Regions from separate parts of the Homo sapiens genome. Here all the other regions are reported to be linked to region 7. Evidence: microRNA targets listed by miRTarBase, many of them from high-throughput screens and not tested one by one. Region 7 holds a microRNA gene; each other region holds the end of a gene's coding sequence. Distances are from middle to middle.
The links. Region 7 holds the annotated microRNA hsa-miR-4729 (UCAUUUAUCUGUUGGGAAGCUA, at 1,726-1,747, shown strand). A microRNA usually pairs through its seed, bases 2 to 8, with sites in the 3' UTR of a target mRNA and lowers its output. Matches are read on the target gene's strand: a 7mer-m8 pairs with bases 2 to 8, a 7mer-A1 pairs with bases 2 to 7 and ends in A, and an 8mer does both.

Region 1: the mRNA of DUSP8 is a reported target of hsa-miR-4729. Seed matches in the 3' UTR shown: 7mer-m8 at 736-742.
Region 2: the mRNA of TNRC6B is a reported target of hsa-miR-4729. The part of its 3' UTR that is shown has no 7-base or 8-base seed match.
Region 3: miRTarBase lists RPF2 as a target of hsa-miR-4729. Seed matches in the 3' UTR shown: 7mer-A1 at 1,429-1,435.
Region 4: the mRNA of KCTD16 is a reported target of hsa-miR-4729. Seed matches in the 3' UTR shown: 7mer-A1 at 1,496-1,502 and 7mer-A1 at 1,907-1,913.
Region 5: miRTarBase lists SENP3 as a target of hsa-miR-4729. Seed matches in the 3' UTR shown: 7mer-m8 at 650-656 and 7mer-m8 at 1,058-1,064.
Region 6: the mRNA of TRUB1 is a reported target of hsa-miR-4729. Seed matches in the 3' UTR shown: 7mer-m8 at 525-531, 7mer-A1 at 944-950, 7mer-A1 at 1,743-1,749 and 7mer-m8 at 2,628-2,634.

What each region holds. Positions count from the first base shown.
Region 1 is chr11:1,553,117-1,557,208 of GRCh38, reverse strand. DUSP8 (dual specificity phosphatase 8) reads left to right here. Exons shown (of 7, transcript NM_004420.3): 7 at 1-3,158. The coding sequence ends at 691. LOC124902608 reads left to right here and starts at 1,729. Exons shown (of 2, transcript XM_047427956.1): 1 at 1,729-2,260; 2 at 2,529-2,602. The coding sequence starts at 1,729. The coding sequence ends at 2,602. RefSeq lists an enhancer at 1,045-1,842.
Region 2 is chr22:40,322,585-40,326,676 of GRCh38, forward strand. It overlaps TNRC6B (trinucleotide repeat containing adaptor 6B), which reads left to right. Exons shown (of 23, transcript NM_001162501.2): 23 at 270-4,092. The coding sequence ends at 657. Among named protein-coding and RNA genes, the nearest start is that of ADSL, 22 kb to the right of the region's middle.
Region 3 is chr6:111,024,803-111,028,802 of GRCh38, reverse strand. RPF2 (ribosome production factor 2 homolog) reads right to left here. Exons shown (of 10, transcript NM_032194.3): 10 at 540-3,400. The coding sequence ends at 3,221. Among named protein-coding and RNA genes, the nearest start is that of RPF2, 45 kb to the right of the region's middle.
Region 4 is chr5:144,473,511-144,477,602 of GRCh38, forward strand. It overlaps KCTD16 (potassium channel tetramerization domain containing 16), which reads left to right. Exons shown (of 4, transcript NM_020768.4): 4 at 150-4,092. The coding sequence ends at 604. Among named protein-coding and RNA genes, the nearest start is that of KCTD16, 300 kb to the left of the region's middle.
Region 5 is chr17:7,570,860-7,574,948 of GRCh38, forward strand. SENP3 (SUMO specific peptidase 3) reads left to right here. Exons shown (of 11, transcript NM_015670.6): 10 at 24-74; 11 at 514-1,110. The coding sequence ends at 624. EIF4A1 (eukaryotic translation initiation factor 4A1) reads left to right here and starts at 1,966. Exons shown (of 11, transcript NM_001416.4): 1 at 1,966-2,005; 2 at 3,401-3,449; 3 at 3,687-3,819. The coding sequence starts at 1,983. It overlaps SENP3-EIF4A1 (SENP3-EIF4A1 readthrough (NMD candidate)), which reads left to right. Exons shown (of 22, transcript NR_037926.1): 10 at 24-74; 11 at 514-620; 12 at 1,425-2,005; 13 at 3,401-3,449; 14 at 3,687-3,819. SNORA48 (small nucleolar RNA, H/ACA box 48) reads left to right here and starts at 3,854; the gene lies at 3,854-3,988. RefSeq lists enhancers at 1,304-1,363, 1,394-1,443, 1,464-1,523, 1,644-1,713, 2,220-2,975 and 2 more and silencers at 1,884-1,943, 1,954-2,013, 2,914-3,053.
Region 6 is chr10:114,975,026-114,979,117 of GRCh38, forward strand. It overlaps TRUB1 (TruB pseudouridine synthase family member 1), which reads left to right. Exons shown (of 8, transcript NM_139169.5): 8 at 98-2,651. The coding sequence ends at 354. Among named protein-coding and RNA genes, the nearest start is that of LINC02626, 18 kb to the right of the region's middle.
Region 7 is chr17:59,364,367-59,368,366 of GRCh38, forward strand. MIR4729 (microRNA 4729) reads left to right here and starts at 1,717; the gene lies at 1,717-1,788. The region is part of intron 2 of YPEL2 (yippee like 2); the gene reads left to right. RefSeq lists enhancers at 1,286-2,055, 2,056-2,825 and a silencer at 3,382-3,676.

The DNA.
Region 1 (4,092 bases), not on the chromosome of region 7:
GGACATCAAGTCTGCCTACGCCCCTAGCAGGCGGCCCGACGGCCCCGGGCCCCCCGACCCCGGCGAGGCCCCGAAGCTCTGCAAGCTGGACAGCCCGTCGGGGGCCGCGCTGGGCCTGTCCTCGCCCAGCCCGGACAGCCCGGACGCCGCGCCTGAGGCGCGCCCACGGCCCCGCCGGCGGCCCCGGCCCCCCGCCGGCTCCCCCGCGCGCTCCCCCGCGCACAGCCTCGGCCTGAACTTCGGCGATGCGGCCCGGCAGACTCCGCGGCACGGCCTCTCGGCCCTGTCGGCGCCCGGGCTGCCCGGCCCTGGCCAGCCGGCCGGCCCCGGGGCCTGGGCACCGCCGCTCGACTCCCCAGGCACGCCGTCGCCCGACGGGCCCTGGTGCTTCAGCCCCGAGGGCGCACAGGGGGCGGGCGGGGTGCTGTTTGCGCCCTTCGGCCGGGCGGGCGCCCCGGGACCAGGCGGCGGCAGCGACCTGCGGCGGCGGGAGGCAGCGAGGGCTGAGCCCCGGGACGCGCGGACCGGCTGGCCCGAGGAGCCGGCCCCGGAGACGCAGTTCAAGCGCCGCAGCTGCCAGATGGAGTTCGAGGAGGGCATGGTGGAGGGGCGCGCGCGCGGCGAGGAGCTGGCCGCCCTGGGCAAGCAGGCGAGCTTCTCGGGCAGCGTGGAGGTCATCGAGGTGTCCTGACCCCTCCGCTGCCCTCGGCCCCGCCGCCCGCAGCCAGGCCCGTTATAAATGTATATTATATATAATGCAAAGAAAGGTAAATGGTTTTACTGGGATTTTTATCGAGAAGTAAATATTTCGATTTTTTATTTATTTAAGCTGTTCATTCTGGCAATGATTTGGCAACAGTGCGGGTGGTCCTCGAGCTCTATTTTTACTGTCTGGTATTTAAACTGAAACATACGTTTCTAAGCAATACGAGGCCACCTTCAGTCGCAAGCTGGGTGCCAGGCCTGGGGCCCCTCCCAGTTCCCCCGCCCCAGGAAACACTGCTGACCTTTGCAAAGGCTGCCGAGCTTTCGTGCACTTTTTACATAACAAAAAGGTGAAAAAAAGGAAAAAAAAACTTCTTTGCCACAAACTGAGCCGCAGAACCCCCCTTCTCCCCCCACCCACCTCCCCTGCTCCCTCCCTTCTCTGCGCCGGCCTAGGGCTCTGCACCAAAGCCATAGGATGGAGGAGCAGGAGCTGGTGTGCCCCGGAGAGGTGCGGCCAGCCCTCCATCAGCTCCAGGCACCAAATCTTGGTGGCAAGGAGGGCACCCCGCTGCCCGTTGCCCCAGAGCTGTTCTCTGGCAGGGGAGGACAGGCATTGGGCTTCATGGTGCCAGGGTGTTCAGAGGGGCTGAGAAATAGAACAGTGTGTGTAGGGGCTTCGGGCAGGGGGTTCTGGAACGTCAGATGAGGTGCAGCCCAGGGGAGGACAGAGGTGTTAGTGCCCCCAACTCCTGCCAGAGCCCCAGTCCAGCCACAGAGTGGCTCAGAAAGGCCATTCCTAGAGGGCTGCGGCCCTCCCTTCTCCCTTGCCCATGCCCCCAGAGCTGCCTGCCGGGCAGGGTGGCACCATTGCAGGAGAGGAGCTTGGCCTCCGGGGGTCAGGCAGGAGGCGCCTGGCTAGCCAGTGCTGGCTCCACTGGGCAGGAAGCCCTGGACCCCCAGGTATGAGGAGGGGGTGGTCTTAGGGTTCTGTTCCAGGTCTGCCCCGCCCCCCTCCCAGCCATGCCCCAGGCAGAACTTGGAATTCAGGTGTGCACCTGCAGGCTGAGGGGCTCTGTGAGCAGGTGCTGCTCACACAGGGAGTTCAGGCGCCAGCCAAGCCCCTGTGCTGCTGGGATAGGCCTGCTTCACTTAGGGAGCACTGCCTCAAGACAGGTAAAGCCCCCTCGTTTGCCCCCACCCCCATGGGGCCGCTCAGGAGAGAAACTCCCATTCACCCCTTTCCCAGGGTGCTCTCTCTCTAGGTGGCATGCCAGCCCCCAAACACAAGTGGCTTTTGGGCCCAGGTGGGTCAGCCTGCTGCCCCTGCCCCATACCCCCTCGGGCCATTGGGACCCCTGCCCTTCAGATGTCCTAGGGTCTAGGAGTGGGGCCAGTCACTGTGGGAAGAGGCCAGGGGCTTGGCCGGAGAGGCAGCCCAGGGCAGGACCCAGTCCTGAGTCCTGGAGCAGGGCCAGGGAGGCGCCCATCCCGCCCCAGCCAGCCGCCCTCTCTGCTGTTTCTTCTATTTGTTCTTCTTTTCACCCACAGCTCTGTGTTCCTGTCATCCCTCCTTTCAGCAAAAGTCCTGTTCCCGTTCCCTCTGTCCCCACCCACTCCTGTTCCCCCAAGAAAATAAGCTATCGTTGTATTTGCAATCTATGGATTAGAGGTTTAAGTATTTATTATTATTGGTTAATTATTATTAATTATGTAAATTTGCCTCCCATATGTCTGTTGCGTTGGGTTTCTGAGGAGACCCTGGGTGAGGAGGATGCACTGGCTTCCCGCTTCTCGCCCCCCACCCCTGTGCTGTCCGGGAGACAGTGGTCTGGGGCCACTGGTTGGGCCCCCTTCTCCCTTCCCCCTTCCCCTTGTCCCTTCTGCAGGCCGTTGAGGGGGGCTGTCTGTCTCAGTCTGTCTCTGCTCCCACTCTTGAGGCACTGGTTACCGCAAAGTGAGCAGCCAGCAGGGGGGCGAAGGTCCTGTGTTGGCCACTGCCTCCTCCAGTGCTGCAGGAGGCGGGCTGAGGCCCCACCTGGTGGCTTTCACCTGACCCAGCCCTGAGTCCTCTCCAAGCCTCTCTCCGGCCCCTCCCACCTGGCCACTGCCTCCTCCAGTGCTGCGGGAGGCGGGCCAGGGCCCCACCTGGTGGCTTTCACCTGACCCAGCCCTGAGTCCTCTCCAAGCCTCTCTCCGGCCCCTCCCACCTGGCCACTGCCTGGCATTGGGATCGCCCCAAAATGGACCCGGCCCCTCCTGTTATTTGCTGGGAAGTCCAGCGGAGGAGAGGGTGCAGGTCCCCCGCTGAGCCTCCAGTCTCTGTAGACTGGGCTGCCGGCCCTTCAGCCCCCCTTGGAGCCCCTCCCGCCACAGCCGCACCTTCTGCTCCCGGCCCCTCCCTTTGTATTTGGAGACAATGTGTTGTAATAAAGCTTAAAGTGGATGTTTTCCCCACGACTCCGCGCCTCTTCCTTCAGACTGGTGGTGGGCAGGGTGGGGGCAGAGGCTGCTGGGAGGCAGGCCTGAGGCCAGAGCCTGGTGTGTTGGGTCTGGAAACTTGCCCCAGGCTCACACCGCGGGTGAGCTCTGAGAATAGTCCCTGGGGGCCAGGCATGGGCACAGGTCCTCAGCTGCACCTTTAGGGTGTAAAACACACTTTTTCAGTTGTTACAGGCTAGTAAAAGCTTAAATAACTTAAAACGATATAAAACCTCAGTGTTACCCACCAGTCCCCTCACTCCCACAATCCCAATGTGAACAGTTGGATGCTTCCCTCCCAGCCCCTCCATGTGTGCTGTGTGCTGTGTGCATGTGTGTGGGTGCATATACGTACCAGCAGAAATAGGGGTCTAGCTATATATAGTGTCTCCAACCAGACTTTTTTTTTTTTTTTTTTTGAAATGGAGTTTCGTTCTGTCATCTAGGCTGGAGTGCAATGGTGCGATCTCCGCTCACTGCAACCTCCGCCTCCCCGGTTCAAACAATTCTCATGCCTCAGATTCCCAAGTAGCTGGGATTACAGGCACGTGCCATCACACTTGGCTAATTTTTGTATTTTTAGTAGAGATGGGGTTGCACCATGTTGGCCAGGCTGGTCTCAATCTCACTGACCTCAAGTGATCCGCTTGCTTTGGCCTCCCAAAGTGCTGGGATTACAGGTGTGAGCCACCGTGCCTGGCCTCCAACCAGCTTTTCAAATCTTAAGTAATGTGCATGTCATACAAGGATTAAAAGCACACCAGGGTATGTGGTAGAAAGTACTGGTTTGTCTCCCCCAGGCTTGTCCCCAGCCTCCAGGGTCCTCTCCCTGGAGGCAGCCCCAGCCCGGCCTGCAGAGCCCCGCCTCCCCCCCCCCCACCCCCCACCGAGGGCAGACCTGGCTGC
Region 2 (4,092 bases), not on the chromosome of region 7:
TCTAGTAGTCCTTGGTTATCCTGAGTTTTGGTGATGCCTTGTTGGTTTACATCATTACTTCTTAATTACCTGGCGGTCTGGTTGAAATACAAGTTCTGGACCCAGAGGTCTTGGGTGGAGCTTGGACTTTGCATTCTAAAAAGCGTTCATGGATATGGCAGCTTCTAGTCAAAGGACTGCACATTGAATGTCAAGGACTGCAGTCGCTCCCTCCGTATGCTTTAGGATTTTCCTGAGATCCATAGCTCTCTTTCCCTCCCTTCTTCCAGGTGTGTGTTGGGAAACACTACCATCCTTGCTGAGTTTGCCACTGATGATGAAGTCAGCCGCTTTCTGGCACAAGCTCAGCCCCCTACACCTGCAGCAACCCCAAGTGCGCCAGCTGCGGGGTGGCAGTCGCTGGAGACCGGCCAGAACCAGTCAGATCCCGTGGGACCTGCTCTGAATCTTTTTGGTGGGTCCACTGGGCTCGGGCAGTGGAGCAGCAGCGCTGGTGGCAGCAGCGGGGCCGATCTTGCTGGCGCTTCATTGTGGGGGCCCCCAAACTATTCTTCTAGCTTATGGGGAGTCCCAACGGTGGAAGATCCCCATAGGATGGGCAGCCCTGCTCCTTTACTACCTGGTGACCTTCTGGGAGGAGGGTCGGATTCAATCTGAACTTAGAACTTTCAACTCTGACCTCGTGACCTTTTTTGGAACAGCAGCAGCACTAACTTGACCTTTTCGTTTTTTTTTTCAACTTGCAATAAATACATTTTTAAAAGGAAAAAAGAAAACGGAGAGAAAAAAAGGTGGGTCATTGACAGACTGTCTGAGCACATAGTTGCCTCCCTTATAACTTCAGTTTTTTCGTTTGGAATATGAATCCAAAAAGAGAACATATCACTCTTGAAATACTTGAATCATGAACGCCAACCTAGAAAGACAATGTGAAGCAAGTACACATACCATTTAAATTTAAACACAAAAAAATTAAAAAAATTAGTTTCTAGTTTTTCACTTTTTTCATGTTATATGGAAGTTGTTGCTAAGAAACATATATACTGAAAAAAAATAGCTTTTTAACTTTGTTTGCACTGGGTGTGTTTCCGTCCTTAGGTCTACCATGTTTGGGAGGGAGGGAAATTCAAAAGAATTGTTGGGGGAGGGGGGAGGGAAGACTTGACGGAGCCTCACTTTAAAAACAAAAACACAAAAAACCTAAAAAAAAAAAAAAGGAAAAAATTTGTGATTGGCTGGTTGATAAATACCAGTGTGTTCTGGCACATGTAACTGCCCAGGCATGCTCGTTCTGGTGTGTGTGTGCACGTGTGTTCATGTGCATTCGCGTGCATCCTTCTCTGTCTCTGTGTGTGTGCCTGTGTTCTTCCCTTCTCCCCTGCCCCACCCTGACTTCTCAGAAAGCTGCATCGCTGACAGTCTGCAGGCTGGCTGGCCGGCCCATCTGCTTTTTATTTTATTTTTTTAACTATGAGAACACACAGGCCCGGAGAGCCACTGCTACTAAAGCAACTCCATTGGGCTGCATTAAGATGAACAGAGTGCTTTTTAATGATGAAAGCAGGGAGCTCCTTTCCATTTGCAACTTAGCCTGAATGTGGGGTTTCTCTGGCTGTTCTTTTGACCTAGCAGTAGAGTGGAGCACTGCCAAGTCCAAAAAACTAGAGCAGGAGGTACCTCTTGGAGCAACGGTGTGTTTATTTCTGTTTTTTTTTTTTTTTAAGTGAATGGCCACCAGGCACATCTGAGTATCTGTTAAGTTTCATGCAGGCCTTTTCGTTAGTTTGAAATGGGAACGGAAGATAACTTTTGATGATGCGATGTCTCAAAAACAGAGAAACTTTGTTCCCTCTTTCCTTATGATCAGGTTTGAGAAATTCTTCAAAAAATTAGGTGAAGTTGAGTTACATATTTCTGTTGGTTGGTTCTCTTTTTCATTTTATGAAAACAGAAAAGAATAAGTGGTGAGCAGCCTCCTGAAAGCATCTGCAGCTACTCCCTCTGCTCCTTTCTCGCCGAGCGTTACCTGTGCCAGGCCGTGGCGCGTTACAGCACCAGGCCATCACTGACAGAAACGTTTACTTAACGAATGTTCTTAAACCAGTGTGTACTTCAAGCGTTTCCTTTTGTTTCTCTGTGTTGTGTATTTCCTGTGTATGTGGTTTTGCTTAGGCAGGTATAACTTAGCGAAGACTTTTAAGTATTGCACCTTTTTTTGATTTTTGACCTCTTCCCCCCACCTTGTAATTTTGCTTTTTTAATTTCGGTATTTAAATACTTTTTTTTTTTTTTAAGCATCAATGTAGTAGTACTCTGGGCCGAACAGGGGTCAACGTTTAATCTACAGTTATCACCAACATGTATGTACTTATGTCGGAATCAAAATGTATCAAACTGCTTATTGTGAAGAGAATTATAGCAGACCTGAAGGGGGCGAAAAACCAGATAGGGTGGGGGGATGGATGCCGGTGACGTGCTAGCACTTGTGTGGACATCCCAGTCTGCATTATGCTGTTTAACATAAAGTGCCGACATTTTGTACCAGCAAATACCTGCCCATTCCAACCCTTGGTGGGAGCAGACCTCTACTGTCCTCTGTAACTTGCTGCTATTGAGGACAAGGGAGTTTTTCTTTCTTTAGCGTCTTCAGTGAAGGATACAATACAACAATGCCTAATGTATTTGACTTTTTAGCTTGTGTCTGTGTGTAGGTGGGTGGGTGGGTGTGTATAGGAAAAGCCTAAAACAAGTTATTTGCATTTCAGTGGTTTTGTGAGACAAAGAATGGGAAATTCTGTAGCCCTTCTGGCTTACCCTGTTGATTATAAACCTAGCCTCAAAAGAGATTGACAGGCATGACTCAAGTGAGTGTTCACATATACAAGCCTGCATGAGCCCTCTGTGGGTAGGTGGTCACACTTGGCATCTGCAGCATTGACGTGGCCCCGCTGGGTGCCTTGAGCATGCCCTCTTCCTGCTCTGCAATTTGAATCACCACCGTGCCCCTTCCACCACTGTTCCCCATGCAAAAGCTCTGCTTCCAGCAGCCCCCACTGACCGCTCTCTGTGTGGAGCAAAGTGCTGTCGTGCGGTGACCACCAGGTGAAGAGCAGCTTGTATTCAGACATCTAGAGAAGGTTAAATCTTAGTGTCCCTGGGCCAGGAGCATATCCCAAGGCTCCTGCGAGCCAGTGGCGACCCTGTCCACTGCCGCTCTTGGTTCACTGCTGTGTCCTGCCCCACCCTCCTCTCCTCCTGCCTGTTGGTTCCTTGACCTGCACTATGGGTTAGTTGAGTTCCTTACGATACTACGGTGAAAGCCGGGTGCTAGAGCCCCTCTTGTTTACAAGACATAATGAGGGATTTGAAATATGTAAAAATAAACATGAGAAGCTAAAATGTTCTTCCATCATAAGCTTAAAGGGAAAAAAACTAAAAACTTTAAAAAAAAAAGACCAAAAAGTGCGTATATATATACATATAAATATATATTTTAGATGAAGACTAACTCTGGGAGCATTTAACAGTGTTTTTTGTTTCTGTTTTTAACATTTGTTTTCCTGCTTTAAAATTTGCAAGCATTCTCAGGAATTCTAGGGTAGGAAGCCAGTTTTTTGAAGATGGTTTATTTAACCATATCTTATCCTAGAGAGATGGCTGTTTCTTTCCTGTTAATAAACTTTTACAAGTTCCTGAAACTTCAGAAAGTTTAAACAATTTTTACTTAAAAAAATGTAAAAAGAAAAGTCTCCAAACATTATTGTCATACTGGGGATCACACATTTTAAAACACATAGAAATATTTTTTAAAAATTATCAATTTAGCAGCAACAGGTAAATTCATTATCTTAAAAATATGGGAGAAGGATTAAGCTTTGTAAGAGCTCGATCATGGATTCTTTTGAAATTGTGTGTAGTTTAATGGGAGAGTGTTTGGTGTATATAGATGAGAATGCCATCACTTTGTTCCTTTCCATTTGAGACTGAACTGAAATCTCCCCTAGTAATTTTTATTTTTTTAAAGGAACCCTTCTCCTTGTCCCCACAACCCCAGCAACAAAAGAAAGGAAGGAAGGAAGAAACAACAGCTTA
Region 3 (4,000 bases), not on the chromosome of region 7:
TAACATGGTCTAACTGGCACACTCTGAATGATACGAGAAACACAATGACATCCTTGCTGTTTTTAAACTTGAGCAACTCGAGTTGTTGATATGAGAGACAAACAACATCTAAATGCAAGCTGACTTTCTTTTCACAGCTAGCATATACCTCAAGTAAGCAAGCCCATTTCATCTTCTTTTTCAGAATAGCTTCTTTCAATGAATATCAAACAGTATTCTCTACAATTTCATAATGTATATACGCTAGGATGCATTTGTCTTAAATGCAGTTATGTTTTGACTATTTCTAAGTAAAAGTGCATTAAAAACATAATGAAGCTCGTATTTTTTGCACTGTCTCTTAATTTTATGGTGGACAAAGCACCAATTTCTGAAATTCAATAAAAGCAAACCTTCCTTTGTTGTTCGGATCTTAGCAATGGGTTTAGTAGTTTTAACTTCTTCCATTTTGAAGCCTTCCATTTTTAGCCTTAAGTAGCTAGACATAAAAAGGAAAGGAAGGAGAGATCATGTAAGTAGCTAATCAGATAAATGAAAACTGACTTGAAGTTAAGTTTTATTAGCCCTTTCTTTTCTTGAATTGAGTAATAACATCTCTACTTTGGATTATGTTCAATAACCAAGAAAACAAACAGCACTTAATTTTAAAAAAACAAAAAAAAAGAAACCCAAATTCCATGAAATAATAGCTTGGTAATAGTATTAATATTCCAGAAAAAATATAAGAAATTTGGTATTTAAAACAAAACAAATAACCAAAATGCTTTCCTCATCTACCAAAACCCAACATTAAGTAAAACTTAAAACAGGCAATTTACCACCTCCATTGAAATGAATACATAGTCTCCAATTTATGTGTGTTGTATTCTAAAGTAAGGACAACTGAAAATCAAGATGTGCTCTCCACAAAAAGTGATATAAATGGCAGCTCAAGAGTTCCAGATAGTACAACACTACAAGGTGTTCTCAACAAAAAGTCTTTGTTAGACTTCAATAATACTATTTGGTACTTCTATCAGCAAATAGGAAGCATTCCAATACTTATTAGATCCTCTACCATCAGACACAGAAATTACCTAGAAAACAGAAATGTATTGCCAAATCTCAAACAAGAGGGCTGATTAAAACAAACAAAAACACCCTTAAGACGTCTCACATACAGAAATCATGGCCATCTTTGGGTTAAGATTGGCTGATTTTCCAGTAGTGCTGGGGTAGGTCTTCCTGATAGAGGGGTCCAGGCATGGCAGGGTCCCGTAAGCGGCTGGTGAGGAGGACCCACTGCTTTGCCTCCTACCAGTGATGAGCGAGGCTTTGGGGAAGGACTATGCGTCCATCACTCCTGATGTTCTTTTCATGGCTCCCCTTCTCAGCTATTGTCCATCTACCTCCAGATGGCAGCAAACGACTTATCTGAGCCCCTTCTTCTCATTTAGATATAAAGTGCAAATGTCTGATTCAGGTACGAGACTGTATGGTCTTTGGTTAAACGTATAATCAAACAAAAAGTATAAATGATACCAGCTCCTTCATTTTTCTGGCAAGAGGAGAGTAACAGCTATCCGGAGAGGACTAGGGAAAGCTAAGGAATGGATTCAAAAGAGAAGGGAAAGGGTAGAAGGTAAAGCTGAGGCTCGAACTTTTGCTTAGTGCCAGCATTGTTGATCTGTAGCTGAGCAAGCTTACATAAAGGCATGTATACACAGGCACGGAGCTCTCTAACATGGAATTGAAGTGAAACCCTGTCTCTACAAAAAATCAGCCAGGCGTGGTGGTGGGTGCCTGTAATCCCAGCTACTCGGGAGGCTGAGGCAGAAGAATGCTTGAACCTGGGAGGTGGAGGTTGCAGTGAACTGAAATCGCGCCACTGCACTCCAGCCTGAGCGACAGAGCGAGACTCTGTCTCAAAAAACAACAAAAAAGAAAGCACTGGTACTTCATGTAACAAATTATGATTTGCGTATGTCTGTACCTTTACAACATTACTGGCACTTGTATAAAGGAGATTCCTTGTCAAGGACTGAATCAAGGAACTTAACACCCTATTCCAGAAAAACAAGTATGCAATACTAGTAGAAGGAAGAAGAAAGCTTCTGTTTTCCTAGGCACAAGGCCTGTCTTCAAGAAACTTTCAAAACAAGTAGTTAGGCTTTGGCTGGCTTCTACACCATCTGCAAACGCCCAGGGCCTTCATGCAACCTTTAGCTACCTAGGGCTACCCAGTACCCTAAAGTGCCCTGCACCTTAAAACTCACCTGTTTTCTCCTTTTTCATTTCTGCCCCTATCAAAACTTCTTTTCTGCCAGGTGCAGTGGACCAACATCTGTAGTTCCGGCTGCTCAGGAAGGTGAAGTGGGAGGATCACTTGAGCCCAGGAATTTGAGTCCAGCCTGGGCAACACAGCAAGACCTCATTGCTTTAAAAAAAAAAAGTAGGGCTCAGTGGCTCATGCCTGTAATCCCAGCTACGTAAGAGGCTCAGGCAGGAGGATTACTTGAGCCCAGGAGTTCAGGGCTGCAGTGAGCTGTGATTGTGCCACTGCACTCCACCCTAGGTGACAGAACAAGACCCCATCTCTTAAAAACAAACCAACCAAAAAACACAGGTTTCGTCTCAGAGAAGCGGGGTGGGCTCTACTTAGTAGTAGAGTCTCTTAAAACAATCAACAGTAGTGTAATTTATCAATAATCAGATAGCAGACATCCCTCTCAGAGATCTATATATTTTCAGCCACAAAGCTTAAAATCTCAAATGTCAACGAGTAGGATTTCAGGCAAAATAAAAGTAGAAAATAAAAATCAGAATGTAGATCCATGTTGGGAGAGGAGGTTAACTTTCCAGGTAATTCATACTGAGATTGTTTACACAGCTCCTGCGGGTCCGGCTTTCTGTGGCTTTCTTTAGCTAAGGCCAGAAATTCAAAAAAATCCCAATGGTTATGGAGATCCCTCCTCACCCATCCATCCACCCAATGAGAAAGAAGAATTTGTGGAGGGCAGGGGATATCACAAGAGAAAATGGCACACCAGGGTGTAATGTCTCAAATAAAAGGCTTACTTTACACTTAATACTAGTATATTACTGTTCATAATAATATATCGTAAAATTATCATGTTATAAAAATATATAATAAGATCTTATAAGAAACTCTGAATGGATTGACGCTTGATAATTCTCTTAAGTAGAACACAATGAAACAGTAGTGGCTGGCTAAGTTCCATCAATTTTTTTTAATTCTTTTTGACTTTTTCTCGTGGTCTTCTGTTATCCTTTCTGCAGGTCGCTTCTTCAACCCCTTCATTTTCCTGGTTTGTAGTTTGCTTAGGTCTTGCTTCTGCATATGAATCCTTCCATAAGTTGTACCAAAAGTATCATGGGAAATATTTTTCTTCTTCTTTGGCTACGATAAAAGAATATGTATATATTTAATGGCCTTCTACTATAATGAGCCAGTAAAAATCTAGTCTGTAACAACTATCTTAGTAGCAATTTCCATTAGTGCCTGCCCCTTCAGTGACACAGTATATAGCCCTATACACTTTTCTTCTCAAACTTAAGTGTGCATACAAATCACTTGGGATCTTGCTAAAATACAGATCCTAATTCAGTATGTCTAGGGTAGGGCCTGATATTCTGCACAATTCCCAGGTAAACTGTCAGGCCACACTTTGAAAAACAAAACTATAAACTACACTAACCACTGTCACACATCAAGAAAATAGCCTGTGTTTAGCTTAAGAAGTTGTGACTATTGTTTCAATTTCTATTGGCATTTTAGAGATTACATTTCTTCTTGTCTTTTAAAACTACTTAAAAAGTCAAAACACATTTTATGCACATATGGTTTATATACCCTGTACTCTAAATCCTTAGCCTTTACAGTGTACCAAACAACTCTCTTTCTTTTGCTGAAAACAACAGTCTTGACTATCAGAAGGCACTTAGCCAAACCTCATGTCTGGGTTTTGCAACTCTTTTTTTATTATCCCTTATTGTTGGC
Region 4 (4,092 bases), not on the chromosome of region 7:
GCCCACCCTGGGTGCCACCCCACTTTTTCTAAAAGCATGGTTCTGCGATGCTTCTCTTATGTGTGTTTCTGTGTATGTCCAAGTGCTATACTGCTACTCCAACTGACCTGGCTGGCATTAATCCTTTGGGTCCTTTGCTTTCTTTTCAGGTGAGCCTTCCAGATGGTCACCCTCACACTGCGATTGCTGCTGCAAGAATGGCAAAGGTGACAAAGAAGGGGAGAGCGGCACGTCTTGCAATGACCTCTCCACATCTAGCTGCGACAGCCAGTCTGAGGCCAGCTCTCCCCAGGAGACGGTCATCTGTGGTCCCGTGACACGCCAGACCAACATCCAGACTCTGGACCGTCCCATCAAGAAGGGCCCTGTCCAGCTGATCCAACAGTCAGAGATGCGGCGGAAAAGCGACTTACTCCGGACTCTGACTTCAGGCTCCAGGGAATCGAACATGAGCAGCAAAAAAAAAGCTGTTAAAGAAAAGCTCTCAATTGAGGAGGAGCTGGAGAAATGTATCCAGGATTTCCTAAAAATCAAAATTCCAGATCGGTTTCCTGAGAGAAAACATCCTTGGCAATCTGAACTTTTAAGGAAGTATCATCTATAAGGGAGGGCTGGGGGCGGGAAAAGAAAAAAAAAAGTCATTTTGAAATTAACCTCCTAAAAGGAATTCATATTTTAAAGGAAAAAAATACAACTAATGATGCACATTTCTTAGAACACAATAGTCCATTGATATACTACTGCCTACTTTACCTAGTTCACCTTAACATGTAAATCCACAGGGTAGATTTCTTTCTAGATGTGGAAGTACAAGAAAATCTTTTTTAGTTATTTGTTTGTTTACTTCGTCCCATGTGCTAACTATCTTATATATAATGAGAGCCAGCTACGTAAAAGTAGCTGAGAGGCCTTGGGAGTCATTTATCCCAAACTGGGTTTTTTCTCTCATCCTTCTACCTCCCTCCTTTGAATGAGGGTATGGTAGAAAAAGATCTGGCCCAATGGCATAAGTTTGGAATTTTTAATTTTGGTTTTTCCTTTTGTTTATGGGGTTGGGGGGAATGGCAGATTTATATGACTTTTCACTCAAATCTATATGTGCCAGTTTATATTGACTCCGTATGCATGAGTATTTGTGCAACACAAGCACAACTAAGTATGTATATACACATGACGCACACGATGCCAGGGCCTAGACCTCCCAAGGGCTGTGCTCCTGCTCCCAGCAGCCCTCTCTTAGAATATTTCAGATGGATGAGCTTCTGACTCTTTCTTAAAATTCTTTTGGGAAGATTTCCCAGCCTTTCTTCACAACACTTTCTAACATCAAATGACTCTCATCATCAACAAATTGTATTCCTTATTGTGAAATTAATACCCTCAGGCTCCATTTTACTGCTTTGCTCTTTGTCTGCATTAAGAGAGGATGAGGAGAGCTGGTCAAACATTCCTTGTGTTAAAAAAATCAAACATTCATATCCACAAAATTTTCTGCTAAATGACTCCACACTCAGCCTTCTCTACCCTGAACTGAATTATCACCCTTTTCTCCATGTTTTCAGAGTTCTTACTGCCCACAGTTTAATGGTGTGGCCTTTCCACATAATCCACATTAAGTTCTGTGTTCCTGTGTTGTTGTGGAACTAAGGACAACACACAGTACTTGAATAAGGGTCCGGCCTTTTGTTTGTTTTAGAGAAAGTTGTATTCCACACACAACCTAATAATTTCTTATAAAAATTTTAAACTACAAAGCTACATTTTTACTTGCTTGTAGCCGTTTTTGTTTGCCTTTGGGATTCGGGCTTTGGCTGTGCCCATGCTAGGATTTAGCTGTGTCATTTTTATGATGTCTGTAACAACCCAACAAGGTAACTGAAGCTCCAGAGTTAAGGTTTCAGATTTCTAAATGAAACTATCTTTTTCAATTACATCCTGACTTGTATAGACACAGCCAAAAAGAAACTGTTAATAGCCATCCGTCCATGTAACTCTGTATTTTACTAAGGTACCAATAGCTCTTTCATAGACTTGTGCTACAAGAAGGTTAAAAGACCAGTTTTATTTTCAGCATTCCTCATGCATTTCAGTGGTAACCAAAAAATAATTTGTCAATTAATAGTTGTGTGCCAAGCACTCCTAATTTGTTTTATTGCGTGTGTGTGCATGTGTGTATGTGTATCACAGGTAATAAAGGCAATTGGATGATATCTGTAGGAGGAAAACAATGACTAATTTCTTCCTTTTGAAATCTTTCATTGATGCACATTTATTATGTAAGATGTTCTGTCTTGATTTCTGTTCTTAGTGATGATTAGTATATGAATATCTTTCTGAATTTTTGTAATTCTCGCCTTCACACTAGGATGACAGACTCAGCTAATGTTTCCTTGTCCTGAAGGTTTGAATGGAGTTGAAAGTTTTACATAAGTGAAAAAGAAAGTTTATCTTGGGAGTTGAGTTGTCAAGAGAATTATAATTTATGAATTTAAGTGGTATTCTTTTCTGTATTAATATATTAGCAGATATTTGGTCTTAACTACAACATAGCTTTGTTTGTAAACTTACCAGTATGTCTTGATTCTTTTCAATGTTTCTTGATAGCACATGGCAATACCATCATCCTAATAACAGAAGATCTTGCAAAGAATCACAGAGCTTAATGGGTCAAGAAGTTGAATTTGGGGAAAATATCCTGAAACTCACTTTGGTCAAATGATTATTGTGTTGTCACTGGAAGTACTGTCAAAGACTTTGGGGGTCTAACTAAAATGGCCAAAGTTCCAACTTCCTTAAATTTCAGACCTGACTGTAATGGCCTCAAGATAGAGAGATACCCTTATAAGAGTAAAGAATTAAGATGATAGTCAACCCAATATTTCTACTACATTCTTTAAACAGGAAATTAAACACTGCAAAAGGAGTGTTCGTGGCAGTGTTCCTCTGACCCCTGACCTGTCATGAGTTTTCTCTGCTCTGACATTCCTTATACATCCAGTGAACAAAGCTGGAATAGAAAACCTGTTTAAAACCATCACAACAGCAATATTTTTATTCTGGGCCACCTCTCGACTGGCACTCATCCCATGGTAAAATATTCAAGTAACTAAGACAACAGCATGGCATTTATTTGTGTGAGTGTTTATATAGAAATGAACATAGACCTGGCCAGTAAAAGGCTCTGAGGAGGCTTAAAGTACCTAGTTTGAGTGGAGTTATCAAGTGAGGTCCAGGTAGCCTGCAACACTGGAAATGAGTTCTGGGTAAGTGAGTTATAAGAGTACATGCTCTAGTAACTCTGGTAGTCACTGTGACTCGGGCATGTTTCCCTGAAGTTAAAATAGTTTTTAGAACTTTTTGTTTAATTCTGAAGAAAACAATATATATGGTTTACTTCTCGAACATTGGTTATGACAAGGGCCATAAATTGCTAATATAAAGAAGTTAGTAGTATTGAGTGGATACAATGAATGGGGAATCACATGTGTAGAGCCCCAACTTAGATTGCCTTCTGGGAAATCCCGCGATACTAAAATCCAGTGAGCTTTGGGAGATCATTCCCTAAAGGTATGTGGGTTGTCTGAAGTCAGAAACATATTTACAAAGTCCTTCTACCCACTATCAAAAATGAACTGATCTGCATTCAGCAGGAAAAGGGGAAGACAGGAATGTAAAACTACTAGATCATATGGTATTGTGATTTTCTTTCCCCTGCTAGGAAAAAATTGCACTGAAATGCTGACAAAAAATAATGAAATGAAGTGGCTTCCAAAATATGCACTGATGTTATCCTTTGTATTTATAGGCACAGTTATCTTACTGAAAATGCATGCATGGTGAATTAAAATAAAAGGGGGAACAATGCACAAATAATAAGCGTTCCCTTTGCTCTTTATTCCTTTATAGTTGTATCTATTCCAACCAATTCATTTTGGGGGAACACATTTATTAAGGGATGTTGACATGGAATTTTTCTCTTTTCAATTAGCCTTGTTAGATTCAGAGGAATCTTTATCCATAGGCACAGGTGTGTTGCTTGTTCTGGGCCCCATTACTGCCTGCGCTTCTGGATTACTTTTGCTTTCCTGGGCT
Region 5 (4,089 bases), 52 Mb from region 7:
CCTGCTTTCTTTCTCTTCTCTAGAATGTGGCCAGGCAGAATAATGACAGTGACTGTGGTGCTTTTGTGTTGCAGGTAAGCAGATGATGGGGCCACCTCCCCTAGCTCTGAAGTCAGTTGGGTTAAAGGGTCGGGAGGCTGTTATGCATCCCCTCATTTGGCTCATAGTCAGTTGTGGAGCAGGAAGTAATCTGTTTTAGAACACCAAAACACTGGCTTCACTGGTTCTCTTCTGGACTTCTCCATCCCACATTGGGACTGGGTCTCTAGTCTTGGGCCTCTGGCCTTCATAGAGCTCCCTGCTAACCTCCAACTCAGTGTATTTTCTCCATCTAAAACATTCTATCAAGTAAGAACACTAGCTTTAGAGTCAGGCTGTTTTTGAACCCCAGGCTGTGGGACCCTGGCTCCCTTTGGGGATGTTCTCTGAAGGATGGAGACACATCTCATATGAAATGTGTAGCACAGGTCCTGACACGGGGGGTTTCTCATGGCTTGCTTTGTTAACACCCAGTACTGCAAGCATCTGGCCCTGTCTCAGCCATTCAGCTTCACCCAGCAGGACATGCCCAAACTTCGTCGGCAGATCTACAAGGAGCTGTGTCACTGCAAACTCACTGTGTGAGCCTCGTACCCCAGACCCCAAGCCCATAAATGGGAAGGGAGACATGGGAGTCCCTTCCCAAGAAACTCCAGTTCCTTTCCTCTCTTGCCTCTTCCCACTCACTTCCCTTTGGTTTTTCATATTTAAATGTTTCAATTTCTGTATTTTTTTTTCTTTGAGAGAATACTTGTTGATTTCTGATGTGCAGGGGGTGGCTACAGAAAAGCCCCTTTCTTCCTCTGTTTGCAGGGGAGTGTGGCCCTGTGGCCTGGGTGGAGCAGTCATCCTCCCCCTTCCCCGTGCAGGGAGCAGGAAATCAGTGCTGGGGGTGGTGGGCGGACAATAGGATCACTGCCTGCCAGATCTTCAAACTTTTATATATATATATATATATATATATATATATATATATATATATATATATATATATATATATATATATATATAAAAATATATAAATGCCACGGTCCTGCTCTGGTCAATAAAGGATCCTTTGTTGATACGTAAGTGGTGGTCTTCCTTAAGGGGCTTCAAATTAGTGGATATGCTTAGCTCAGACCTTCCAGCCAGTCTCTTGAGACTAAAGGGTTCAGCTTTCCATCCCTGGCTCAGGCACTGCCAACACCTTGTCTTCACCCAAACAAATCCCCGAGATGGGAGCAGAGAGCAGGAAGGAGGGAAAGTAGATAAGCCTCAAGAATAAGGGCATCCGAGAGGGAAGCTGGGGAACTGGACACAAGGGACTGGGGAGGGGACCAACCAGGATTCATGATAGTACCCCAAAGCCCTTTACAGTTTTCTTCCATCCCTCCACCATCCAGCCAGGGGAATCCTCCCATCCCTACGATATCGCTGTTGATTCCTTCATCCCTGGCACACGTCCAGGCAGTGTCGAATCCATCTCTGCTACAGGGGAAAACAAATAACATTTGAGTCCAGTGGAGACCGGGAGCAGAAGTAAAGGGAAGTGATAACCCCCAGAGCCCGGAAGCCTCTGGAGGCTGAGACCTCGCCCCCCTTGCGTGATAGGGCCTACGGAGCCACATGACCAAGGCACTGTCGCCTCCGCACGTGTGAGAGTGCAGGGCCCCAAGATGGCTGCCAGGCCTCGAGGCCTGACTCTTCTATGTCACTTCCGTACCGGCGAGAAAGGCGGGCCCTCCAGCCAATGAGGCTGCGGGGCGGGCCTTCACCTTGATAGGCACTCGAGTTATCCAATGGTGCCTGCGGGCCGGAGCGACTAGGAACTAACGTCATGCCGAGTTGCTGAGCGCCGGCAGGCGGGGCCGGGGCGGCCAAACCAATGCGATGGCCGGGGCGGAGTCGGGCGCTCTATAAGTTGTCGATAGGCGGGCACTCCGCCCTAGTTTCTAAGGATCATGTCTGCGAGCCAGGATTCCCGGTAAGAAAGGCATTTGCAAGAGATTGTGGCTGCTTATTTTGCCGCCCCCTTCCGACGGGCCCGCCGGGGGTAGCTGAGAGGCCCACCAGGGTTGCGGGAGAAACCGAACCGGGTGGGGGGAGGGTCCGACTTGGAGGGGCGAGGGGGAAGACCCACGGCCGACGCGGCCACCAGGTCGAGGCGGAGGGTAGGGACAGCCCGGCTAGGGTCAGGCGTGCGAGGTCTGTTACGAGGCCTCGACCCGAGGCGGTGCCATGCGCGAAGCCCCGGCGCTGAGTGGCGAGACGGGGTCGCGACCTGGCGTGGGAAAGAAAGGTGGAGGCGGCCGCCACTATGTGTGGCCCAGAGCCGGCAGGTCCGGTTGCCTCCCTGTGCCGGGGGAGGGACGGCGCGCGGGGTTCCGGAGCATTCTGACGGTACCACTCGCGAGAGGCGGGGGTGCCTGGTCCTTAGATCCAGTCACTTCGTCGCGGCTAAAACACGGGTCGGGGAGAAGAAACCGGCCGTTCAGTGTGCTGGTTTTCTTGACGGCCAGGACTGAGCCTAACCCCGAGGAGCGGCCGCGTGAGGCACCAGGAGCCCACCCGGCGCCGGGCGGGCGGGTCCATTTTGCCGCACAAGCCGGGCTATTGGCAAACTGCGGATGGGCAGGTCCACCTTCCTTCGGGGGTGAGCGGCCTGAGGTATGGGAGGGCGACGCTACTTCGCGACGGGGGCGGGCGGGATGTGGATTGTTCATGGAGGGGTGGGAGACGCCGCCGGGTGGTCGAGGGAGCGAGCACATGGTGGCCTGAGGCGTTCCCCTCCCCCAGTCTGCTTCGCTTCTAAGTGTTGTGCAATCTCCCCCTTTGCTAGCTCGGCTTGGGCTCATTGTGCGCGAGGCCGCCACCGCCCGCGGCCTCCCACATCCGGGCAACGCGAGGGGGGGGCTTCGGCTGGAGGGAGTGGGGGAGGGCGCGGGCGGGATGACGTGGGGGGAAGGGGATGTCCTACCCTCCGATCTGGGAGGTGAAGGGCGGGACTTCCAGCGCGCTGGTGCTGCGGTGGGAGGTGCACGCGCTTGGGCTTTAAGCGGCTGGGTCGGGCCCACGTGGACCCGGCGGCAAGCACCACCTCTGGGCACCGTGAGCGCGGCGGCACGCCTGCCGGCCTGTCTTCAGAAAGGGTCACCCCCTTATGTCGGGGGTGGCCTGGCCTGAGCCGCTGCCTGCATGGGGCAAATGCCTCAGTTTTATAGAAACTCCTCCTTTGGGTATTTTTTGGGAGCTGGTGGGAGTTGGATCTGGGACAGCAGATTGATGGCATCATGCAGGCCACTCCTGACAGAGCCCGGCTGTCAGGATTTCTGAGTGCTTCGGTCGGGCAGGGGACAAAACTTATGCTTTAAACCAACAGATCCAGAGACAATGGCCCCGATGGGATGGAGCCCGAAGGCGTCATCGAGGTGAGACTGGAGAAATGGAATTCTGTCCTCCCCCATTACAACTTTCAGCCGTATAGAGTTAGAGTGGCCTCTTGATTGATTTCCCAGATCATCTAGAAGCAGCTGGTTTCCCTAAAGGGAGGAGGGTTGTAAGCTCTGAGGCTTTTGTTAGTAGGCACCAGATTCTGTTTGCTCGGAGACTACAGCTCAGCTCCACCTTTTCCATGACTCAAGCTTTAATTTCTTTGCATCCCCTAGAGTAACTGGAATGAGATTGTTGACAGCTTTGATGACATGAACCTCTCGGAGTCCCTTCTCCGTGGCATCTACGCGTATGGTTTTGAGAAGCCCTCTGCCATCCAGCAGCGAGCCATTCTACCTTGTATCAAGGGTGAGACCTCTCAGTCCCAGAAGACATTGTGGACTGTCCCTGACCTGGGTAGAGTGGCATCTGGTTGGTGATGCCCATCTCATATCAGCCAGGGACAAAGCAACTCCTTGTTCATCCCAGCTTGGCTTTTGATCCGTGCCCATGCCTGGTTCATGCCTTGGACACATAGGTTTCCTTTAAAGAGGTGGTATTGTAGCCAGCTTATATTTGCATCTACAGCCATGTTTCTAGTCCAGCTTGGTGTGCAATACTAGATGAGTTAATAACTGG
Region 6 (4,092 bases), not on the chromosome of region 7:
GAGATTTCAATTGAGTACGGTCATTTGAACAATTACAGACTATGAAATACTGAATCGTTTATCTTCTGGATTTTTTTTCTACCTTTTGTTGCCATAGAACTATCTTCCTGTGCCAATGTGCTAGAGCTGACCCGAACCAAACAGGGACCATTTACGCTAGAAGAACATGCCCTTCCTGAAGACAAATGGACAATTGATGACATTGCACAGTCTCTTGAGCATTGCTCATCTCTTTTCCCAGCAGAGTTGGCACTTAAAAAATCAAAACCTGAGTCTAATGAACAGGTTTTGAGCTGTGAATATATAACTCTAAATGAGCCAAAGAGAGAAGATGATGTAATTAAGACGTGTTGAGATTGGCCTGGGAATATCATCATTTTCTAGTTGACATTTGAATCCTGTGTGCAGATGCAGAATGACAAGCTGCATTCAAAAGACAAACAATATGTCTTTTTTTTTTTTGCATGAAGAAAAATGTCTATCATTTACAGTTTCAATAGCACATAATTTATTTTCTATGCATTATAAATGGCCTTGCAGTTGGCTCAGTTGTTTGTTGTGTTGTGAAATGTTTTAGGATTTTTTGTATTGTGAAAATATGAATATGATTGGATTCAGAAAAATTAACTTTCTGAATTTGATCTGTCTTCAGTCTTGTGAAAAAGTTGAACAAATTTCCTAATCAAAGAAAAAAGTATGAGCTCCATGTTTCTTTAGTTTCACAAAAATGACCATAATTTAGTGTTATTTTTACTTTATTTAGGCTTCCTGGTGGCTTCATTTTATTGAAATTCTTTAAATTGTTTAAAGTGGCCATTATTGATCTCTTTCTTCTGTTTTGGAGAGTTTATTATTAAAAACATTTCTTTGATAAAATGGCCATCATCTAGTAATACCTGTGTTTGTTTAGATCTTGGAAATGAATAAGCTTTGATAATATTTGTAAATGAACCAAATTATTACTGCTACCACTAACAGGTTGTAAATAGAAGACTAATACTTAATTAAAGTCACCTTCCTACCATTAGAGCAGAAGACAGCTCCTATAGTTTTGTATTTTGGCAGCTATGAGATATTTTCATGGTAATGTCAACATGGTCAAGCACTTTGTACCAAGTTATTAAGTAACATAATTTTTAAAATTTAAAGAATGTGTCTTCAACTAAAAACTTTATTCTTTAGCATTTATTTATATTTCTCTGTAGGGTGTTCCCTGTGACATTGTCTCTTTAGTTTGCTCTTTCAAGAGATACTTACAGATGTTGAGATGGCTGCCCTGCATTTCCAGCTAATCTCTTCTGCTCTAAATATTTAAAAACAGTTCTTCTCAAACATTTTCATTCAGATAGCTTTCTGAAAGTTCCCTATCCCTCTTTACCATAATTTTTTAAATGTAGCCACATTGTAATAGTAAACTTCATATATAATGAGTGCTTCATATTTTTGTTATGGGAAAGCAATATATTATGCAGCCAGTCTGTAGAAACATTCAGATCCCTCTTCCTTTACTCAAATACAGTTTCAAAAGGAAGACTCATGAGAAATTTCATAAAATACAAGTTTTTAGATGTTTATGCTTTGCCTTTCTTTTTAAAGGTGTTTTCCTGCTTTGTAGTCTCTAACTCTGAAATTTAAAATATGTAAACTAAAGTGGTTTTATTTGTGCTTAACCCAATTTAAACTCAATGTAAAATGTTATATATGCATCAGTACAGCATTTTCAACATATTGGCAACATATTTTAAATGAAAACACTAAAACAATTCTTAGTATGAGACAAAACTGTAAGGAAAAAGAGTGTTAATACCATGATGCATTAACATAAAATATCAAACACACAAAGTCATAAAATGAAAATTTACAGTTTTACCTGTTCATATCTAGTGCCCCACAGTGTGTGTCAACCAAAGGTGGCAGTGGCTACATCTGCCTGTTGGACTGGTACAGGTTACAATATGTCCTCTTCCATTGCAAATTAAAGTCCAAATAGAGAAATACTTAGGTTTTAGAACACATCAGAGGTATTTCTGCTGTATTTTTCACCTTAAAAATTGACACAGAGTTTACTAATAGAGGAGTAGAGATTGTTGACCATTTTTAAAAAACGATAGCCACTCTTTTTCTTTTATGTTTAAAACTGAAGTTTTGCCAAATGGGAAAATTACTGTTACCTCTACCATCTTAATGTAGTAACTTTAGAATTTAAATTTTTATATTACTATTTTCCTTTTTGTTGTTCACATAGTCTTAAGGCACCTATACTTTTAAATTGACTTTTTCATTTGATATTATCTATATGTATGTAGTTGTGATAATGATTATTTTAATTATATTACTTTATACTCTTAATTTATTTAGAGTATTTCTCTATTGCTGAATACTTAAGTAGTTTTAAATTTTATTATGATAAATTCCTGGGAGGGGGATTATTTAGTGAAATAATATGAAGAACTTTATGACTTATGTTTGCCTTATTGCATTCCCAAAGAGTTGTAACATTTTACAGTGTTACCATTTGAGTAGGGGTTTTATATGTTGTTGCTAATTTAGTAAACATAGGAGAGAAATCAAAGTTTTTCTGATTTGCTTTTATGTGATTTATCTGTATACTTTGTTCATTTATATAAATAAATGTCTTAATGGTTTCTATACATATTTGCATGAGTTATTTGTGTTGTAAATACCTGATAGAAGGATTTTTCACGGTCTGTTGTCCTTTTAGTTTTAATTTTCATTTTTGCTAACTAAATTTGCTAATTCTAATAACTCTTCCCCTTTTATCATTGTCAGATTAATAAGTATGAAAAATTTTAAATTTATTGAGACTTTAAAATCTTACTAACTCTCATAAGCAGTTGAAACTGAGATACTCTGAAAAGTTCAAGACTCATTCATAAAACAAATTAGTTTTCCCTGATAGTCTGGTATTTAAATACCAACTCAGTTTTTTTTTCATTTTTATCAAAATATTCAAGAAATTTCTGTGTCTTATATTTTTCTAGGTCTAAACCTTCATGACATGATAAAGTTGTTTTACTTGTAAGAAAACGATAAAAGATTTAAAAAATCCTGAAAATGTTTCAACCTGGAACATACCAAATCACTTCATTTTGACACTTTAAGTTTTTTATATTTGAAAAATAATGTCTTAAAAGTTGTTAAAAGTCATAGAATTATTTTATTTATAGTCTTAAAATCCAGGACCTTTATGTAATAGAAATTTGCTCTTTGCAAATTCAAAGTTTTGAAATGTGAATAAAGGCTAAACACAGTTTCCTCTACCTGTACTGACTAGATATTTTTTTCTTAAATACTTGAATTAAAACAAGCCATTGACTCATCATCAGAAATGAGTTACTGTATTAAATAAGAGTGCTTTGTATCAGATCTTCAGTACATTTTATGTCCCCTGACCAGTTTGAAATTTGTATCAGATTTACAATGAACATTTTGAGGTTCAATTAGATGGTGAATTGTTCTGTTTCAAAGAAAGTAAGTAATTTACCTTATATCATGATGTATACAATAGAAAGAGATGTGATTCAAAAGCACTGTAAAATGCCAAAACATTTAAATAGAGGAAACGATAATAGATATGAGGTTTATGCACTGAAATGAGTATAATGGCCTTGTAGTTAAATTTAAAGAGAGGGATTGTCTTGAAACCATTTCTTTCTCTAAGGTATGTATGGGCAGAGCTCTAGATTGTCCTAATTCTTCATTAAATACTATTTATTAAGCACATTTATTAAGGTGTTGAATCAGTAGTACCTTCATTTGTTAATGTGTGAGCTAAATTCTCTTTATGAATAGGAATATCTTCAGATTGCTGCTATAAATACTGATACCGGCCGGAAAGTTGAAGTTCGGGAATTATTTTGCTCTTCTTATCCTTAACCCTTAAAATGCAGCATATTAACTTTATTTCTGTCTTTACCGTTAGTCAACTTTTTGATCCTAGGTGAATCACTTAATCTCTTTAGGTCTCAAGTTTCCTTATCCTTACAACAAAGGAGACAGACTAGTCCATCTTGAAGAATCTCTCCAATGCTAAAATATTAGGCTTCCAAGTGTAGATAATTTGTGATTATT
Region 7 (4,000 bases):
CGCTGTGATCTTGGGCAAGACTGTTCATCTCTCTGGCTCTCCCTTTTCTTCATTTATCCAAATGAGTGCAATAGGTTAGACTGTCTTTAAAGTTCCTTCTACTTCCCCCCTGCGTCTTCTGAGTCTAATGTAGTAGCATAAGATGATATGAGGCCATATAACATAGCAGCTCGTGGTATAACTCCGAGCCCAACCACCTGGCTTATTCATTTAGTAGCTGTGTACATTAAGTAATCCCTCTGTGTCTTTTTTTTTTTTTTTTTTTTTTTGAGACAGAGTCTCGCTCTATCACCCAGGCTGGAGTGCAATGGCACGATCTTAGCTCACTGCAACCTCCACCTCCCGAGTTGAAGCAATTCTCCTATTCAGCCTCCCAAGTAGCTGGATTACAGGTGCCTGCCACCACATCGGCTATTTATTTATTTATTTGTTTATTTCATTTTTTGTAGAAGATGGGGTTTCGCCATGTTGGCCAGGCTGATCTCGAACTCCTGACCTCAGGTGATCCACTGGCCTCGGCCTCCCAAAGTGCTGGGATTACGGGTATGAGCCACTGCGCCCATCCGCCTTTGCGTCTTAATGGCCTCACTGGCAAATGGGAATAATAGTAATATTAGATACCTGATAGGATTTTTGTGGAAATTAAATGAGGTTATTGATGTGAAGTTCTTACCACAGGGCCTGGCACGTGATAAGTGCTCAATAAATGTTGGAAGCTAGTGTTATTCTATGAATAGTCACTAAAGAAAACCAAATGGAAAGTGACAGAACTAGGGCCTGGCACCCCAACAAGCCTGGCACTCTTGCTTGTTGCCCTTGTTTTTGGAGAGTCTCAGCAGTTGCCCTTGAGCCCTACAGTTGTCATCTGTCGTCTTTTGAGGCCTCTCCTCATGGAATCGCTTGTTCCTTATCCCAGGGGGACCAGCAGGTCTCAGGAGGTGATGAAATAGCAGCAGCACCTTCCACCACAGCTTTCTGGGGCCTTACCTGCAGGCAGCAGCGAAGCCTCTCTAGAATGTAAATGGAAAAGCCTGTCCCTGCCTCCTTCCCTTTTAGTCTGTCAGGTGGTTACTGTGCCTCTGACCCACCCGAGGACCTCAGTTGGCTGTGACACAGCAGCCCAGGCGGCTGGAAGAGAAGTCCCTGGCCTGGAGAGTGAAGCTGGAGCTGAGAGTTGCTTGTCAGTTTGATTCCTTCTGTGACACTTCGGGTGGGGGGGAATCTTTTGAAAGAAACCACTTTCTTTATCTTGAAAGAACAAAACCAAAAGAGAATCTCTGATAACCTTTGTTTCCAAAGCACTCAGCAAAGCTGCTGAGAGGAGGGTTTGACCTGGTGACCCAGAGTATTATCTCTGGGGTAAGGGCTGCCCAGCCAAGGGGAGCTTTAGCTGTTTCCCTCCTCTCCCTGGCTTATTGCTGGTGGCTGGACAGTGAGTTGGAGGAGGAGGGGGAGAGGAAGAGAGGAGGAGATGGCTCTGCCAGCTGCCGCTAGAAACAACAACATCTAATCAGTCCATAAACTCCCTCCCCTCCAGACTACAGTGATGTCAAGAGGTGGAGCAGGTGGCACTAGTTCTCCCCTCCCCTTTAGCCCCTGACACCTTTGGGTCTTTGAAGGGGTAAATTATGATCATCAAAAGGAAAATTCTCTATCTTTGGGGGCCCAGGAGCTCCTTTTCCTTCTTGTTAGGGTTGGCTCCACCAAGAGCAATTTTCTGTTTCCTCATTTATCTGTTGGGAAGCTAACTGTGACCTTAGCGTCCCAGCAGATAAATGAGGAAACAGAAAAGTGTTTCCTCACCAAAACAAAAAATCCCTGAGCAAACCCTCCTGCAGAGGGCCCTGTCATTTATTCCACATTGTGTGAGCTCCTCTTACGTGTTAGACCCTGGGAATTACAGTGGCAAACAGATGCAAGCTTTGCCTTCACTGAGCCTGTCACACGGTACCCTTTGGTTCCTGGAAGACCCAGCACCTGAAAAAGCGGTTGGTGGCAGCAGCAACAAGGATCTCCTTCCTGAGCCTGGCCCCTAAGGTTATCCGGGGCAGCTGAAAAACCAGCATTTCCATAGTGCTTTCCATTCAGTTTGCCTAATTTTCATGAGAGGCTGAAGTGCCTTTTGTTTCCCTGATGGTCCCTGTCCTCCCCTGCAGAGTCGGCCTGAGCTAGCCCAGCCGAGTCGGGCAGCCCCTTGTTCTCTGATGCATCTTTGGAGGAATGTCTGTATTCTCAGGACCAGGCCTCTCCCCACTGGGTGGGGGCTGCTTTGTTTACATTCCTGACCTTCTGAAAGCTGCCAGCTTTATCCACAGCTGGCCTTTCCCCTTCAGATGCCAAATGTTCCAAACGACAGGTACAACTCTGAGAGGGCCGTTAAGGTTCATGCCAGAAACATTCACCTAGGAAGCCTGAGGAGAGAGGAAGCCAGTGAAACTAGACTTCATGGAGCTTTTTGAAGCTCGAAGCCCCCATATTTCTTGATTCTTCCCGCAGCGGGAGAAAAAAAGAAAAAACACAAAGTGTGTCTGTGTGGGAGGAGAGTTCCTCCCTGTCCATCTCTTTCTCTATAAAAACAAGAGGCCAACCTGCTCTGAGCATCGTGGGGGCAGGTGCTGGGTAAATACACGAGAAAGGAAAGCCAATAAGATAAGGTCTGACAAATCTAGGTCACCCGGCTGCTGCCAGGTACCTGTGTGACTGGCCACCTTGAAACTGACAGGAGGAGTATGGACTTTTGTTCGAGGCTCAGCCTGGCTGATTTCTCATGTCTTTGTTTATTTATTCAGTAAACATTAATTGAGTGCCATTATGTGCCAGGCCATGTGCTAGGTGTTGCAGGTCCCTGTGTGCCTCTGACAGGCAAAATCTCCTCCTGGATCCCAGGCCTGTAACCAGGGCTAAAAAAAGAAATGACTTCATTCAAAAGCCAGTTGGTTCACTAACTTCCAGAGTAGGGGCAGCCAGTCCCTTGGTAGAAGGGAGGGGCTGTTTGCAGTCTTGATTCCCTGTTTTTTGGGCTAGATCCAAAGGTCTGCAAAACTTTTTCTATAAAGGCCAGATAGTATTTTACGCTTTGCTGGACATAGGGTCTCCACTCAAATCTGCAGCCACAGAGAATATATAAACAAATGAGCATGGATGTTTTCCAGAAAAACTTTATTTGCAAAACAGGTGAAAGGCCCAATTAGGCCCTTGGACTGGTTTACTTAACCCTAGGTAAGATGATTAGAATGACTGTTGTGAAATGGGTGTTGGAGAAATAGGTTTCTGTGATTTCAAGAGGAATCTCAAACCAGCATGGTGGCTTGTATGAAGAGTGTAGGGGTTGAGGCACTGTGCTAATTGACAAGGTCTTAATTGACACCCTGGTGAGAATTCTATTCCATAGGCCAGACTTCAGCCCCAGCCGTCTAGCACCCACAGGTTCCCACCATAGGTTACAAGGTGATCAAGCCAGATAGGGCACATAGTTTCCTACAGTGTCATCACTGTAATGGGAAGACAGTGTGGGGCCCTGCTGAGGAGAGTCTGTGGCACCATTTGAAAAGCCTTGAATGAGGGTCAAGCCACCTCTGCTCCAGACCTGGCTTTGTGCTAAATTTTCAGTGTGGCATTGAGCAAGTCACTTAACCTCCCTCATCACCCTGCATATATTAAATCCTACTGTATGAAGCACTGGGGATACAGAAATGGATACAAATACAGAAATGGATGAAATTCTCTTTTTTTTTTGAGACAGAGTCTCACTCTGTTGCCCAGGCTAGAGTACAGAGGCATGATCACAACTCACTGCAGCCACAACTTCCCAGGCTCAGATGATCTTTTCACCTTAGTCTCCTGAGTAGCTGGGACTACAGACATGCGCCACCATGTCCGGCTAATTTTTCTATTTTTTGTAGAGATGAGGTTTCTCCATATTGCCCAGGGTGGTCTAAAATTCCTGGGCTCAAGTGATCAGCCCGCCTTGGCCTGCCAAAGTGCTGGGATTGCAGGCGTG